Linked DNA regions of Homo sapiens: region 2 is linked to region 1. The links come from fine-mapping of genetic effects on gene expression. Tissue or cell type: testis. Region 1 holds a variant in brackets; the other region holds the start of a gene. All regions are shown on one strand. Distances are between the middles of the regions.

Region 1 (8,108 bases):
GCCTGTGAGATGGTCACATGGCAAGGAACTTCAAGGGGACTCTAGGAGCACAGTGCAACCCCTGGCTGACAGCTGGCAAGAAAAGGGTATCTTATTTCTGCAATGGTAAGAAGCTAGATTTTGCCATCAACATGAGCTTGGAAGAGGATCCTGAGCTGAAGATGAGACAGCAGCCCTGGCTGATACGTTCACTTAGGGTCATAGGACCCTTGTATGACCCTGTATGATCCTGAGTGCAGGATCCAGTTAGGTGTTCCTGGCCTCCTGACCCACAGAAACTGTGGGATAATGTATGTGTGCTATTTTAAGCCACTAGGTGGTACTCTCTTATGCAGCCAAAACAATTGAATATACTGCTCCTTAAAAAGATCCAGTCATTCATTTAACATTTATTGAGATCCTGCTGTGTGTACCACTCCAGAATAGCTTCCTCAGGCTGGAATTTTCCACCGTACTTCCCTTGGTTGGACCTAATTATATTTAAGTGCCTCCTCCTGCATTGTTTGTGCAGTTTACCACAGTCCTAGGAGCTAGACTACCTGGGTTCAAATCCCAGTTCTACTGTTTACTAGCTGTGTGACTACAGGTAGATTATTACTTCTGTGTGCCTGTTTCCTCATTTGTAAAGTGAGAATAATAATGGTGTCTACTCCACTCAAATGAGCTTATTTATTAGTCAGGTAAGGTTATGCTGGGGTAACAAATTAACCATGGAGCCTCACTGGCTTAATGCAATGGAAACATATTTTTCAGTGATGCTGTGGGTTTTCGGGGGCTCTACTTCTTGTAGTTACTAATGGACTCCAGCTGAGCGAGGGTCCTCCAAACTGAGATGCCACCATCTTAACAGATTGCTTAGACAGAGCTGGAGGGTCATTTACTTTCTTGGCCAGAAAGTAATACATGCTACTTCCATTCACAGTCCATGCTGCAAAACCAGTCAAGTGATCTCACGTAACTCAAGCTGGTTGGGAAGAGACAAACAAAGAAGGAGCCCACCCTGTGGAAATCTTTTCATATACAGAGAAGAGCCAGTATACAGGCTGTGGGGAAGGAATTACTGACATGTTCACGAAAGAGTAAGAAGCTCAGTGTGACAGTTGTGTGGTGACTAAGGACAAGAGTTATAGAAGAAATCATTGGAGAGATAGGGAGGGGCAAGATCACACAGAGTGAGCAAAAGCAAGAGAGTGAGAGAGACAGAAAGTGCTGTCTGGGTCACCTCTTAGACTCGTAGCCACACAAAGGGGGGAGCTATCTGTGTTTGTCACTTCTATCCCCCAAGTGCCTAACACACTTGCTGGACACTCAGTAGAACCTCAGACACTTTGTTTACTGAATGAATACATGAATGAGGTGGTGGGGTTGACATACTTGTCTCTCTGAATTTCATTCCCCGGGCCTCTCTCCAAGGTACGGACTGCTTCTTGACCATCACAACGAAGCTTTGGAAACATATTTCAGGGATGATGAAGCAAACATTATCTTGTGTACAAGACAGTTCAGCAGAACATTATCAAGGAAACCACATTCCTATCTTGTAGGCTAAGGATGGAGCTGAAAGATGTGACTGGACTTTAGACTTCCTGCAGGCAGCAACTCTTCCCCACTGCAGCCTCTGCTGGCTGAGAAACAGGGGCCTCTCTCAAGAAGAAGCATATCAGATCTGACCAGAGACTGGCCAGAAAGAACACCCTGCAGACTGCCTGAAGCCCAGGGCTAGGAGGGAGGCTGAAGGAGGGACAATAGCATCTCTGGAAGTCAAAATATTTTCTTTTACCCAGCTGCCAACTTGCAGAGAAGGAAATTAAAGCAAGGCTGCTTTCCTAATTTAGAGCGAGGATATTTTCCATATTTTTGTAGAGATATTTTATTTATGAGACACAAAAGGAACCAGGGGATACAGATAGTAAGAGTGTCTACTGGCCTTTTAATGCACGGTAGGCTGCACATTTCCTTCTTGTGCTTTAGAAATAGGTTCAATAAAAGAAAGTCCAACTTGTGAAATCACACACATCTAATTCTCTTTGAGATTTAAGGCCACAAGTTGTGACCTGAGCTGAGTCACAGCTGGGTCGAAGGGAACTGCCTCATCTCTTCTCCACCCACGACAATGCCCTCTCCATCAAAAAATATCTAACTGTGTTTGTCCCAGATTAACAGCAAGCCTTGGGATGATGTGGGAAAGCGACCTTTGCATTGTTTGTACAGTGTAGTAATGGCGTCCTTGTGTTTCCTCCATCCCAACTGTCTGAAAACACTTTCCAAATTTATTTCAGCTGTGGTTAAGGAATAACAGAATAGAAACATAGCAGCGATTTTGTAGTTTAATGACTCAATCAAGAAAGAAAACATTACCATCGTGCTGTGTTTGACAATTCACTCCAAATCGATTAATTTGATTTTTATAATGAGATTTGGGATAACATTCTGATTCTCCAAATCTTAGAAAGCAGCCATTTCATCCCTCAAATCCAATATAAAGGCTTTACCTGCATGGGATTCAAATTTATAATGTTGTGTGGTAAGGATTCTATGATGCATTTGCTTCCAACTTTTAAACTCAAATACCTATGGTGACACCATCAAAGCTAAAAAGTGTGAGCAAAAACTGGACCTCTGCCAGCACTTTGCTAGACTGTCACAGGCGTTTCCACTAACTGCATGGCTGACTGAAATGGCTTTTAAAAGGTAGTGGCGAGACCCTTGAAAGTACTTGAGTGTATTCTTGTATCTCTCCTCTTGCAGTCTGCCCCATGGCTGAGAAATGCAGTCTGTCCCAGCCAGAAATCTGGGTATCCATCTTTTTACTTTATGATTCCTTTTAGGTGTCTCCCATTAGCATTGGTGGATTTCTCTCTTTCTGCATCCAGTACAGAACTGCAGGATCCAAAGATCACCTGAGCAGAGTGGAAGGTGGTGTTGGAGGAGTAGGGAGACCTCACTATACAGTGAAGTTACGTAACGTGCAAATATATCTACCTTGAATTCAACTATGGGTGTTCTGGAAAAGGTGTGGGTGGGGCGTGTGGAGAGGGAGGATGGAGGGAAAAATGGGAGAATGCCTATGAAAAAACATAATTCAACTATTGTGGTTTTCTGTTGTTGTTGTTGTTCTTTCATTTGTTTGTTTGTTGATACAGGGTCTCACTCTGTCACCCAGGCTGGAGTGCAGTGGCACGATCATGGCTCACTGTAGCCTCAAACTTCTGGGCTCAAGTGATCCTCCTGCCTCAGCCTTCCAAGTAGCTGGGACTACAGGCACTAACCACCATACCTGGCTAACTTTTTGATTTTTTGTAGAGATGGGGTCTCATTATCTTACCCAGGCTGGTGTCATGAACTCCTGGACTCAAGAAATCCCTTTGCCTTGGCCTCTCAAAGTGCTGGGATTACAGGTGTGAGCCACTGAACCCAGCCTGTAATTCAAACATTTGATTACATGCTACATTGCACTCATGAGTGTGTCCCCCTGGGAGTGCACATAACTTTGAAAATGTGATTCCATTAAAGTCATCACAACTGCCTGTTCAGTCGGTGTCTGTCTTTGCGTGCTTCCCACAGACAGCACCTCACTAAGCTAAACTATGAACCGCATTTAGTGTTCGAAGTCATACATTCTTTAAATACAACATGGCCTTCAATTATAAGTCAACTGCTTCGTAGTTGGCTGCCAAAGCAACAGCCATCTTAAACCATGAAATGCCCTTCAGAAGAAAGACATGTGCTAGGAAGATGGAGGAGGGAGCTTGAAGAAACCTGGGTCCCAGGTAAATGTGAAGTCACTATTCCAGTCTCATCTAAATCAGAAAATAATAACTTCCTATCTTTTTCAGCTATGGTTACTTTGAGTTTTTGGATAGATGCGGCTAAACCTCATCCTCATCTACACATTGTTTACATGCAAAATGAATTCCACCTTGAGATATAATATAAGAAGCATGCCCTCTTTGTGGCTGAATATAAACCACAGTGGAACTTTCTCCAAAAAAGGAATATTTACAAAGCTATTCCCTTACCTCCAGGTAAGCAGAAATTATTTAATATTTTATTTTAAAAGAAATCACTGCATTCAATACAATGTATCTTGCTGAGCTTTTCTTGATCGGCATTTTAAGCTCATATGATTAATTTTTCTGACTTTCTGAAGCACATAGACATGAAAACTGAAACTAAGTCACAGATAAACAAGGAGTACACACAAGGATGTATCAAAAGGCAAAGAAAAAAGTATCCTAACACTCAAACAAATATTCATAAACTGTAATTACAGGGGAAAAGGCACAGGATGTT[C/T]CTGCCTGTTTATAAAGATTAACAAACCTTGGCCAAACCCTTCTTCTTTTCCTTATCTCCAGTAATTGCCAAGCAAGTTCAACTGCAAAGCTAAAGAATGTGCCAATCTCTTCTTTCAAGACTTTATTCCTCTTTGTTTTCACTGCTCATTTTCTTCAATACGTCATCACAAGTTCCTTAGACCTACCTTTAGATAAAATGCTTCTGTTTCCTTAACTATAATGAGCTTCATGTAAGGAGCAACACCAACATTTATGAAAAATTTGTCTTCCATTTCTTCTACCAAGTTAAATACCTGGCCCTAAAGTAATCTGGGTGGCCACCTGGTCTGGCCATGTCATTCTTCAGATGCTACAAAGAGACATAGTAAGTGAGCTGGCTTCCCCATCTATCCACGGCAAAGTCAGAACCGGCTTCCAAGCCTAGAACAATCTTCTGACTGCACCACCTTCATCCCTCACGGTTCATCTGTTATCTTTCAGCTTTCTTAATCTTGTTTGCCAGGTCGCCACGCATCACTCATTACTCACTGATCTTCGGGTCTATGATCCTTATAACTGCCCATGCCATTACATACTTTATAAATCAGATACTCTCACTGTCCCTTCCCTTTTCTACAGAACTTACTTGTCTACCTTTTTATCCCTTTAAATAAAAGAATAATGATACCCAATTATTGAGCCCGTTGTTACTGTGTTAACATGGGCTTTGCGTGCAACTCTAATTTTGCCCTCTCAATACTTGTATGAAGCAAAAACCACAGGAGATAAGGAAACTTAGGCTCAGAGAAGATAAGTAACTTGCTAAAGTTCCCAAGACACTCTCATTTTATGCTTCAACCTTCTCTGTAGAGTAGCACTGTCCAATAGAAATGTGATACAAGCCATATATGTAGTTTAAAATGTTCTGGTAGTCAGATAAAAAATGTAAAAATAAGTAGTTGAAACTGACTTTTTAACTATATATTTCATTTAACCCAAATATCCCAAATCGTATTTCAACATGGAATTGATGTAAATAAATAATTATTAATAAGATATTTTACATTGTTACAGCACATCTCAATTTGGACAGTGGATTTTCATTAGAAATACTTGATCTGGACTTAGACTTCATAAAATATATGATTGCAAGAATAGATTCACATACCCAAGTTGTTCCAAACGTACTTAAAACTTTTCCAAAAACTGAACACAGCATCACTTTTTTAAAAGTTTAAATTTCACTTCATTGCAAATTATATTAAATTAAAATGAATTCATCAGTCACATGAGCCATATGTCAGGTGCTCAAAAGCCACATGGTAGTCAGTGGCTACCACGTTGGATAGCACAGTTCTAAATCTATGAATGCATTCTTCCAGACAAACTCAACTATATTTTCCTACCTGAACTCATGCAGACGAGTATGTCTCCTCCTCCTCCTCCTCTTCCTCCTCCTCCTCTTCCTTCTCCTCCTCCTCTTCCTCTTCCTCCTCCTCCATGAGAACAGTTAACCCTGCCCATCTTCCGAGGCCCAGTTCAGATGTCTTTTCCTACACAGAGACTTTCCTGATCCACTCAAAAGGAAGTAAACTTCTCCTTTGAACTTGCAGAGCACTTTTTCTGGGCCTCTTGAATGTCAATGATCATATTTCTCTTTGTAGAGTACACATTTCCTTTCACTCCTGACTCCTGTACTACCATCTTTGGAAACCCATAAAGGCTTACCTCAAAACAATGTAAAAAGTAGCTCCTAAAAATATTTTGTGCATGAATCACTCAAAATGATTTGTGAGGGAAATATTAAAATGACACAAGTCTAAGCCTTTGAAATAAACTATTTACTCTCCACAAACAAAACCAGAAGAGGACAACTTCGGTAAAAAATTATAACCTCTTTGGTATCCTTATATAGGTTGAGAAAGAATATGAAAAAAAAAAAAACTATTACCACACCTCACTTGTTTTAAATTTTATAATAGATACATTGGTTTCACAAATCCAGGGGCCTTTTTGTTTCTCTCTATAGACACAAAGTCTTGTTCTGTCACCCAGGCTGGAGTGCAGTGGCACAATTATAGCTCATTGTAACCCCAAACTCCTGGACTCAAGCTGTCCTCCCACCTCAGCCTCCTGAGTAGCTGGGACTATGGGCACATACCACCACACCAGGCTAATTTTTTGTTTCTTGTAGAGACGAGGTCTCTCTATGTTGCCCACACTGATCTTGAATCCCTGGCCTCAAGCAATCCTCCTGCCACAACCTCCCCCAGTTCTGATATTACAGGCATGAGCCACCACACCCAAACACAAGGGGCATTTTTAAAGTACATGTCTATATATGTTTCTTACAGTAAGGCAGAATGAATACCCACACCAGCCTTCCACAGAAAACAACTAGGGATGTTGGATAATGTATTTTAAAGCCCTATTTAAAATATGCATGAGTGGACAAAAAAGTAAAGAACACTTATGTCTCAAAATAATCAGGAAGAACATTGCAGCCCTACAGCCAGTGCTTGCCTTGAAGTCATTTGTTGAATGTGGTGAATCTAAATTCTGTTTTCCTGACCTCACAGGATTCAGTGGACAAAATGCGAATTCTAGGCTTGCCCATGGTAACAAGTTGAATGGGACAGTCCTTCCCATAAAGCTGGGACTCAGCCAGGCATGGTGGCTCATGCCTCTAACCCCAACACTTTGGGAGGCCTAGGCGGGAGGATTGCTTGATCCCAGGAGTTCGAGACCAGCCTGGGCAACATGATGAGACCCCATTTCCACGAAATATTTAAAAATTAGCTGGATGTGGTAGCACTCACCACAATCATGGCTCACTGCACTCCAGCCTGGGCAACAGAGCAAGACCCTGTCTCAAAACAAACAAACAAAAAAAAACACTCTGGGTCTCTAAAAAGGATGTATCTTTATGGTAAGGGAGAACAGCCCTCTCTCAACCAAAGGCAGGAAAATTTCCTACCTTAAACTTTGCAAGTGAAAACAACTCTTAACACAAATCACAGTAGAATGGATATATTATGGTATATACATAGAATGAAATGCCACAAAGCAACAAGGAGCAATGGACTACAGATGAATGCAACACTGAGGCTGAAACTCACAAATATAACGATAAGCAAAGAATCAGACACAAAAGGGTACACTGTAGATATCCATTTATATAAAGTACAAAAATGGCCAAAGCTGGTGAGACACAGTGGCTCATGCCTGTAATCCAAGCAATTTGGGAAGCCAAGATGGGTGAATCGCTTGAGCCCAGGAATTTGAGACCAGCCTGGCCAACATGGCAAAACCCCATCTCTACTAAAAATACAAAAATTCGCCAGGCTTGGTAGCATGCACCTGTAGTTCCAGCTACTCAGGAGGCTGAGGCAGGAGAATCACTTGAGCCCGAGAGGCAGAGGTTGCAGTGAGCTAAGATTGTGCCACTGCACTCCAGCCTGGGCAACAGAACAAGACTCTGTCTTAAATGAATGAATGAATAAATAAATAAATAAATAAATAAATAAATAAATAAATAAATAAATGGCCAAAGCTAACTGATGGTGGTAGAGGTCAGAATATTAGCAACCTTTGGAGATGGTGGGTTGGAGATCATGATTGGGCACAAGGGAGGTTTGTAGGATTCCAATGATGTTCTATTTCTTGATCAGGGTGCTAGTTATATGACTGTTATTACTTGGTGCAAATTCATGAAGCTGTACATTTATAATTTGTATACTTTTGTGTGTATACATTTCAATATAATAAGAAATGAAACAAAAATGAAACTCAACGAACAGTTTCAAAGGTAGATTAAGCATAGCTGAATCAGTA
Region 2 (8,108 bases), 200 kb after region 1:
GCAGTTCAGATCCTTGTCCATTAATTATGAGATGCTAATGGATAAGAAGATAATTTGCAACAAGTGAAATCATCTACAGCCACATGCCTTTTGGTCATAACAGTAATGAGCAGCATCTGTATACTATATTCCAAGTATGTATATGGTTGCTAAGAAAAGCAGAAATGTTCTTAATGATGCAATTAGTTTTAAGCACGAATGTTAGCTAGCTAATCCAAAATGCTGGCTTGCTTTTGTATTTCTCTTTCTCTCAACTTGTACAGATTAATCTGATAATGTGTGCTTCTGAAATACAATGAGAATCCAGCCCCTCCTAAAGACCAAGAGAAATTCAACATTTCAATTTTTGATGCTCTTTCTAATCTTGAGTTCCCTGGTTTGGAGGTAACATCTTGCCCTCTGCCTCGACTTTCCTTTCTACTGCCTATCTTTCTCAAGAAAATGGGCAAAAGACCTAGCAAAATTTGTTAGTTTTTTGTAATCTGCACCCCCAACACCTAACAGCCTCAGTTACTTTGACACAGTAACTAACATTAATAATATGTGATGCTAATAATTCTGATAAATGATGCTTATTTTTCTAAGGCGGTTTACTAAAGCCAAAGTCTAACAGTTATCTCACATTAACACAGCTGAGTATGATCTCAGATGCTATTTTCAAACGGTTTTCCTTGGTTGTGTATTTAGCCTAAATCTCCAGCAATTACATGGTATTTCATTTCATTTCTGTAATGCTAACTGTACTTTAAAATATTAAATTACAACTGATGGAATCTCCCTTCCCTTATGGAAACAGATCCAAGGCAAACCTATAGAGTTTGTGGACCGAAGGGGATAGGGGCTGTTCATTTTTAAAACAATTACTATTCTCTGAAAGTGTGTTATTTTCAAAGCGCCCATCAGTGACAGTTTCCCAATAGGTCAATTCACTATTTTTCTTAACTGGACAGCAAATATTTTAAGGGTATCTGATAGCTCCCTCTGAGTCCCCTATGTATTGTTGATTCTTCACTAAACTACTAATTGTTCTAAATGGAATTTAGGCATCAGCATATTTCCATGATCTTTCACACCCCTACACAGAGATTTTCTTCTTCTCCTAGGTTAAACTAATACTCAGTACCATAGATTTCTGAAATTGCCCCTTCAGGGAAAGAAAAGGTGAAAACTAGAGAATTCTTGTCCCCCCTGCCACCCAAACACACACACACACTCACTCATACAGTCAATGACACCCTCCAAAATAATGTTTCTGAATTCTCTACAGAACAAGATGGCAGACATATTTCAAAATATATTTCATCCAATCGTTACAAACAGCTTAGCAATAGATATTTGAGTTGGAAAAAATATCAACATTGGGTGAAGGGATAAGGTGACCCTTTGAAATTGCCTGCAGCACTAACAGAAAACCAGAACACCATCTCTTTCTCCAGCTCCCACGACTGCTCCAAAGTAGAGCCAACAAGTCCTACAAGACGCACAAGCGGGTGGCCACTAGGGACATCCCATTTCCAGGCACCATTTAGCAAGTAGAAGAGGAAAACCCACACCACGGAAACCCCTTAGTGGGTGCCTTGCTCTGTAAATGTAATGGAATTAAAGGCGGTCTCCTGAAACTGCCTGGGGGCCTCCTCCTTGGGCCGTGGGACGCGCAGCGCTGGTCCCTACCTCGGATTTCCACACGACGTAGGGGTGCCCGCGACTGTCGGGTGGGGACTGGAACTTCCTCTGCTGGAGCCACCTCCTAGGAGAAGCGAAGATGCCATTGGGGCCTCCCCCGGATGAACAGAGGATGCTGGAAGCGCTTCGGCTACTGGCTGGCCCGGCCAGGACAGAAGGCAGGTCCCAGGCCATGCTCTTCTTGAGGCCGCCGCGACCCAGGGGAACCTCATAGTCAAAGTGAAAGCTGCCGGATGGTGACTTCTCCTGCGGGGTGCTGGGTGTGGAGAAGGACGAGCAAAGAGGTCCAGGAGGCGGTAGCCTGGTGGCCCTGGGGGGCGGACCCCGGGAAGAGGACGCCAAGCGAGGGCCGAGACTCTCGGCTGGGAGTGATGGGGAGTAGAGGCGGCCCGCCGTGGCTCCCCGCGCACTGCCCTCCGCGCCCGCCTCGTCGCTCCCGCAGCCGCCGATCAGGGCCGGGTCCAGGCTGCGGGTCTGGCGCAGCTTCCTCTTGGAGAAGCCCTTGGCCGAGGCCGCGCTACTTGAAGCGGGCGAGGAACAGGAGAAGACGCTGTGGAGCAGGCTCTGCGCGGACATCTCGGCGGGGCTGCACCTGAGGACCACCTCCTCCTCCCTCCCTGGACGCTGGTGGCTTTGGGTCGGGAACCGAAAGGGACTCAGGCAAAGGTGCCAGGCGGGGCTGGCCCGGGGTTTGCCCAGGGCAGTGGAGAGCAAAGCCCAGCTCACGCGCCGCCGGTGCGCTCCAAGTGCCCCGGCGGCGGCAGGAGCAGCAGATCCATCACCAGCCTTCTAGGAAAATGGGTCTGGGGACCTCCTGCAGCCGCTAGAACCTTCCTCCGGAGCCCAAGACGCGAAGAGGGTCAGGAAGAGGAGGAGGAAGGTCAGGCGCTCGCTGGGTTCCCAGCTCCAGCCTGCCAGCGCCACTCCCCCTTCCTAGCTGAGGCGGGAGACGCAGCGCTCCTGCTCGCTGGCTCTGGATGGCCTCTAAGACTCCAGCAAGCTCCTCCTTGCGGCCCGAGGACAGTCCCGAGGGCCAGGGAGAAGGCTGCCTGGGCGTGCGCCCAGGGCGCGTCCACCGCGCTCCCGGCGCCGCGAGAACTTCCTCCCGCTCCTGAGCCGGGCGCCTGAGCTGCGCCTCCCTGCACTCTCTCCTTGCCCCGGCGCCCGAGGTTGCGCGCCTGGCCTCCGCTGGGCTGCTGCGCCCACTCTTCCGACTGCAGAGGCTCAAGGGTTGTTCCAAGCTCAAGGTTCCCGCGGGGTCTCTGTCTTGCTGCAGTGTGGGGACACCGAGCGTGCTGCGCCCGGGACCTCCAAAGACTGCGTGCCCACGGTGGGATGGAATTCCCGGCGGCGCTCAGCGCTCTCCGTGGAGGAGGGAGCTCAGGAGACAGCCCCAAGGCCGGGTGTGTGTGTTCCGCCGGAGAGGAACACGCTATTCGCAGCCCAGCCTTGGGCCCAGGGCAGACGCGGAGATGACCCCGTACGCTCGCTCTAGAGGCAGCGGGAAGGGGGCGGCCAGGACGTGTAGAGCTGGAGGAATGCCGGGGCTGGAGCTGGGGCGGAGCCAGGAGCAGGAGAAAGCAGAACGTGAAGAGTTTTCCAGGCGCCAAACCTGCAAGCGGCGAGGAGAGAAGGCAGCTCGCCACTGATACCGGGTCTCCTGGGGAGAAAGTCGTGAGGACGGAAGTGCGGACCTTCTCCCCCGTCTCCCCACCCCCAGATCAAGGGTCGCGCCAGCTCCACTCACGTTTCTGGAAAGGAAGGGAAGTGTCAGATTGCACCCCACCCACTGGTGTCAGATGGGCAGCCGGGGACGATTGCTCTGAAGTTGGAGTTAAATCTCCTGCCTTTTCTCCCCGCGCCCCCCCACCCCGCCCTGTCCCGGCTGTTTTTGTTTTTAAAAAGGAAGGATAGATAGGAAACTGTCTAAAAGCAGTGGCTGCCGATGAATGAGCTGGAGATGGAGACCTACTAAGAAAGTGGAGGGGGAGGAGCCTTTGCCGTGGAAGGGGTCCTGAGCACGTGCGGAAACGTGCTCTAGGAGGAGGGGTGAGTGAGGCCGGGTAGGGGGCAGGCGCCGGGCGCAGCTTCAGCCCAGAGGCTGCAGAGATTGGCGCTCACAAAGCGATCTGTCTCCGCGTCCCGCTCTGGGACGCCTCGGGTCTCAGCGCGGTGGCCACAGTCCTGGGAAGCTGGAGAACGCTGGGGAAATCAATCTTCCCGGCAAGGAGATGAGTCTGAAAGCAGCTTCTCCCGCTGTCGGACCCCTGGAATCTATAAAGCGCAAAGCCTCGCCCTCTTGGAGGGCTTTTTGATGTAACAGTTAAGCTTTGCAATGCAACTTACAACCATCTCAGCAGGGAGCAGACAGAATGTTGGAAATGTCTACTTTGTGTTTGTGTCCTCTTTTATCACTTAGGGATGAAGATAATTTTATATAAATGTAAAGGTGACTCTACCATTTCTTTTATTTTGGAGAAAAAATACAATGAAATTATAAATACAGATGTTGGACACGAACATTCCTCTTGCATATCTACCAGAATTGTCCAAGTTTGATTCTGGAAGACTTCCTTTATTCCCTATGACATATTCAGGGGAAAAGTTAATTTACTTAGACTCTTTGAAAAGCGTGTTTGGTGTTCCTAGGTGTTCAGCTATTTTGGAGGAGGTACGTCATGAAATCTAATTAGGAGAATTCGTTGTCTCCACAAAGGGCGTCGGGCTCCCAGGTCTTGGCTGTACTCGTTTTTTGTAAACGCAGCCGAACAGACTGCACCCTTAGAGATTTTTTTTCCGGTAGCTTTAATGAGCTATCTGCTGTCTGAAGACAGAGTTCGATTCTAGTTTCCCATCCCCCATCGCTGTCCATCTCTTCTCACCCTGAGCTTCTTAAGTATTTTCAGCGGCTGTCAATCAGGTGTGCTGCTGACAGGCACAGTGTTTAAAAAGAGCTCTTGCTCCCCTGCCTAACTACACCCAGGCCAAGTTACATTTGGGGGCTTGTTGGCATTGGCTTTCTTCCCTCCTCATACAAGTCACATTAGAAGTAAAAGTGTGTGGGTCTTGTCTGCCCTTTCTTTAGTAACAAAACTGTAATTTATCACTGGTAATGGAAACACTTAATGTCTCTACCACTGGGATACGAATGCATGGTTATGCCTCATTGCATGGTTATGCCTCAGTGGAGTTTGGCATTCGGGGTAGATGGTTAACAGAGTCACTTCACAGAATCACTTATAACTCAAGGGGGGTGAGCAACTTGATGATTGTATTTGATGATTTATATATTTCTCTAACCCCATATGATAACCATGGGGTAGCAAATGAACCCCTGCCATGACTGTATAGGCTAGTATGAATGCCCCCAGGCACAAGGGCATACATTCTTGCTCATGGGTGTTGGAGAGCCAACCAGCAGAGGGATTCTTCTATTAGCACTCCTAGGGCTTGGAACACACACATGCCAGTTAATTCATCATCTAGTTTCCAAGTGTTCCTGACCCTCCAGGAAACTGGAAACTTGTGTCATTGTTGGGAACAGTGAATAAATTGTTTTAAATATTAATCAAATTAGACTGGGGCTCCTTTTAAAAACTCAGTGTAAGTATGTGTGCTTTTAATACCTGGGGCAGGGGATGTTGATGTTCTTCTAGAAAGACTTTGTAAGAATTTTTTTGGATTTTTTTAAAACTATTTTGATTTTCAACCTGACTGCTATTAGGTTTACCTTGCAGTCATAGTGGCTTATGGTGGATTCATTCATTCCTATTTAAGGCATTCTATTTAACTCTTGTTTGTTATATATTCTCTTTGTTTATATAGACTCAACTCACATTGGCCTTTCTGATCAACTGTCAGGTTATGCCAAATTCAGTTAAGGAAGATCTATGGGTTTTGGTTACCAATTTCAAAAAATGGCTGGTTTTGTTACATTGCTTCCCAGAATCCTTCTTACAATTCATCAGCTAGCTTCAGAAGCATTATAATTGGTAGTCAAGAAATAAATAGTTTTAATGTATATGCTTTCAAAAGCAGGTTTCTAAGACTTTGCTTTGCTTCTCTATTAGGGCATTTGATATTGAAAATAGTGCCTATATTTGTTAATTTTTTCCTCAGAGACAAAGTTAATCAAAGACTTGGGATACCTTTCATTAAAGAGCAGAACATTCTGTTCACTATTCATTCCCAATGATAATTATTGTAGACATCTAGGATTTAAAAAACATCTTATGCTATCTATTCCATCTGGTCATGGCACAAGAATATTCCAATGGAAGTTCTAGAATCCTTGGACTGACATCAAGCTATCCTCTTATCAGAGATCCTAGAAAACTCATCAGTATTCTTTCTATTCCCTTGAGAGACTGTTCTACAAACACACACATCTTACTATCAAAGGATATATTCTGATGCTTAACCTAAATTTCCTTTTCCTTAACTTTATCCCTTGAAGCTTTTCATATCTCCAGCCAAAATTCCTCTTTATCCTTGGTGTTTAGACCCCAAAGCTATTTGTAGATTTTTATCATGCCCTTTGGGTCTGACTCTGTGGTTTGGCTACACTATAAAGTTCATATTTTGCTTTAAAACCATCACTGTAGATGATCTTTTCTGGACTCCCTCCAGTTGCTTTTGTTTTTCAGTCCTGAGGTCCAATATTCCAGGTTAGGGCATCCTATTTTGCTCTTGTTTGTTATATAATCCCATTGCTTAAACAGTCTCAAATCACACTGAACTTTCTGATTGAGTGTCATATAATATTTCAGACTTCTATCTGATTGGCTCCCAACTTTTAGCATTGTTGATTTTCATTTCATCCTGCCCATGTCTCTCAAACTGATCATGATCCCCCGATATCATTTCTATGTTCTTAGTGGGTAAACAGTTCACAGCATCTCACTTGCCCATAAAAGTCCGGGTTCTGTCTCCAAGCTCCTGAAACATGAAAAAGAAGCATCATTTAAATCTGTGTGACATGCATGGAATACATGAGAGATATGTGGAGAAATTTTACAAGGCTTAAGAATGCAAATTGCATTAAATAGCCCAACTTCCCCATGCCTGAACTAAAAATGTTTCTTTAGATTCCTATGCCAGCTGCCAAAGCACTTAAATTACAATCGACAAACGTCAGTGGAGGTAAACCTAGAGTCTTTGAGTACAGGAAATTTTTGTCTTCTATTACATTTATATACCAACAGGCAAGGTTTTTGGCTCAATATTTTGGATCAATTTCACATAGCCCAGAATTGGAACCATGAACCCTCCAGGTACACACTTGAGGTTTTAATATTCCTCTAGTTGATATCCAGACCTGTGAAATTTTTTTTTCTGACGTTATATTCGGAAACCCAAATGACTATTCTTATTCATCTTTCCCAGTTTTTCCCCACTCTGTGTGCCTAATTTTGCCATTTCTCACCAATTGTGACCTTAAAAAATTAAATTCAGTAAAAGAAAACGACTGTATCTGTGTCAGCATCTGCATTGAACACACGAACATCCACTTGCAACATTGTCCATTTTCTCATTTTCTGTGCAAATATTAGCAACATGTTCTATGTTTTCTAGTGTTTAATATTTATCTTCTAGACTTAAAAAAGCAGGAGTTTGGCATAGGCACATTTTCTGCCTTTTCGCTTACATGTTTATTTCTTGAGCAGGTATGAGTACACTATTTTTTTCTTCTTTTTTTTTTTTTTTTAAATACAGTTTCACTCTGTGGCCCAGGCTGGAGGGCAGTGGCGCCATCTTGGCTCACTGCAATCTCCACCTCCCGGGTTCAAGCGATTCTCCTTCCTCAGCCTCCTCAGTAGCTGGGATCACAGGCACCTGCCACCATGCCCGGCTAATTTTTGTATTTTTAGTAGAGATGGGTTTTCACCATGTTGGCCAGCCTGGTCTCAAAGTCCTGGCCTCAAGTGATCCTCCTGCCTCGGCCTCCCAAAGTGCTGGGATTACAGGCATGAGCCACCACGCCTGGTCGGGGTACACTATTTCTAAATGTTAACCATCCTATTTTCACTTGCCCAAGTTAGCAGGGCAAGTGAAAAACAAGGCTGTATAAGAATCTTAAACCAAGTTGCAGTGTAGATGTGCTCAGCAGGATCACAGGGGCAACTCCTGAACCAAACAGTGGTTACTCTACCTGTGGCATGTGAACGAATCTTCCAATATCAAATCCTAAATGTATGACCATCATCCCTTTTGCTTTAGGCTTTGAATCTTGATCTCAGGAGACTTTTAGAAATATAAATTGGCTGAAAGCCAAATTCAGTTTTGGTTGATAAACATTTTTGAACACACACTGTGTGCTAGTGGCATTCTTTGTTCTATCTTTGTGGTGAAAGTGTACTTAGAATCTCAAAATAAGTTAAATTTATCTGAACCTGGTATATAATTCAGCTGTACTAGCTACTTAA

Alleles and levels. Positions count from the first base shown, and alleles are read on the strand shown. Sizes are in standard deviations (SD) of each study's normalised expression.
In carriers of allele C in region 1, the expression in testis of the gene that starts at base 3,351 in region 2 tends to be higher than with T alone (moderate effect, 0.55 SD a copy in GTEx).

The links. PIP is the estimated chance that this variant, and not a neighbour inherited with it, causes the effect.
Region 2: ARHGAP6 starts here. The variant in region 1 is fine-mapped to the expression of ARHGAP6 in testis (GTEx, PIP above 0.99). The same link has a PIP of 0.9 or more in tibial nerve.

The regions. Positions count from the first base shown.
Region 1 is chrX:11,460,221-11,468,328 of GRCh38, forward strand. All of the region lies in intron 1 of ARHGAP6 (Rho GTPase activating protein 6), which reads right to left. Among named protein-coding and RNA genes, the nearest start is that of MIR548AX, 150 kb to the left of the region's middle. RefSeq lists an enhancer at 1,991-2,135 and a cis regulatory region at 2,058-2,068. The variant C/T (reference allele first, on the strand shown) is at 4,294.
Region 2 is chrX:11,662,570-11,670,677 of GRCh38, forward strand. ARHGAP6 (Rho GTPase activating protein 6) reads right to left here and starts at 3,351. Exons shown (of 13, transcript NM_013427.3): 1 at 1,672-3,351. The coding sequence starts at 2,259.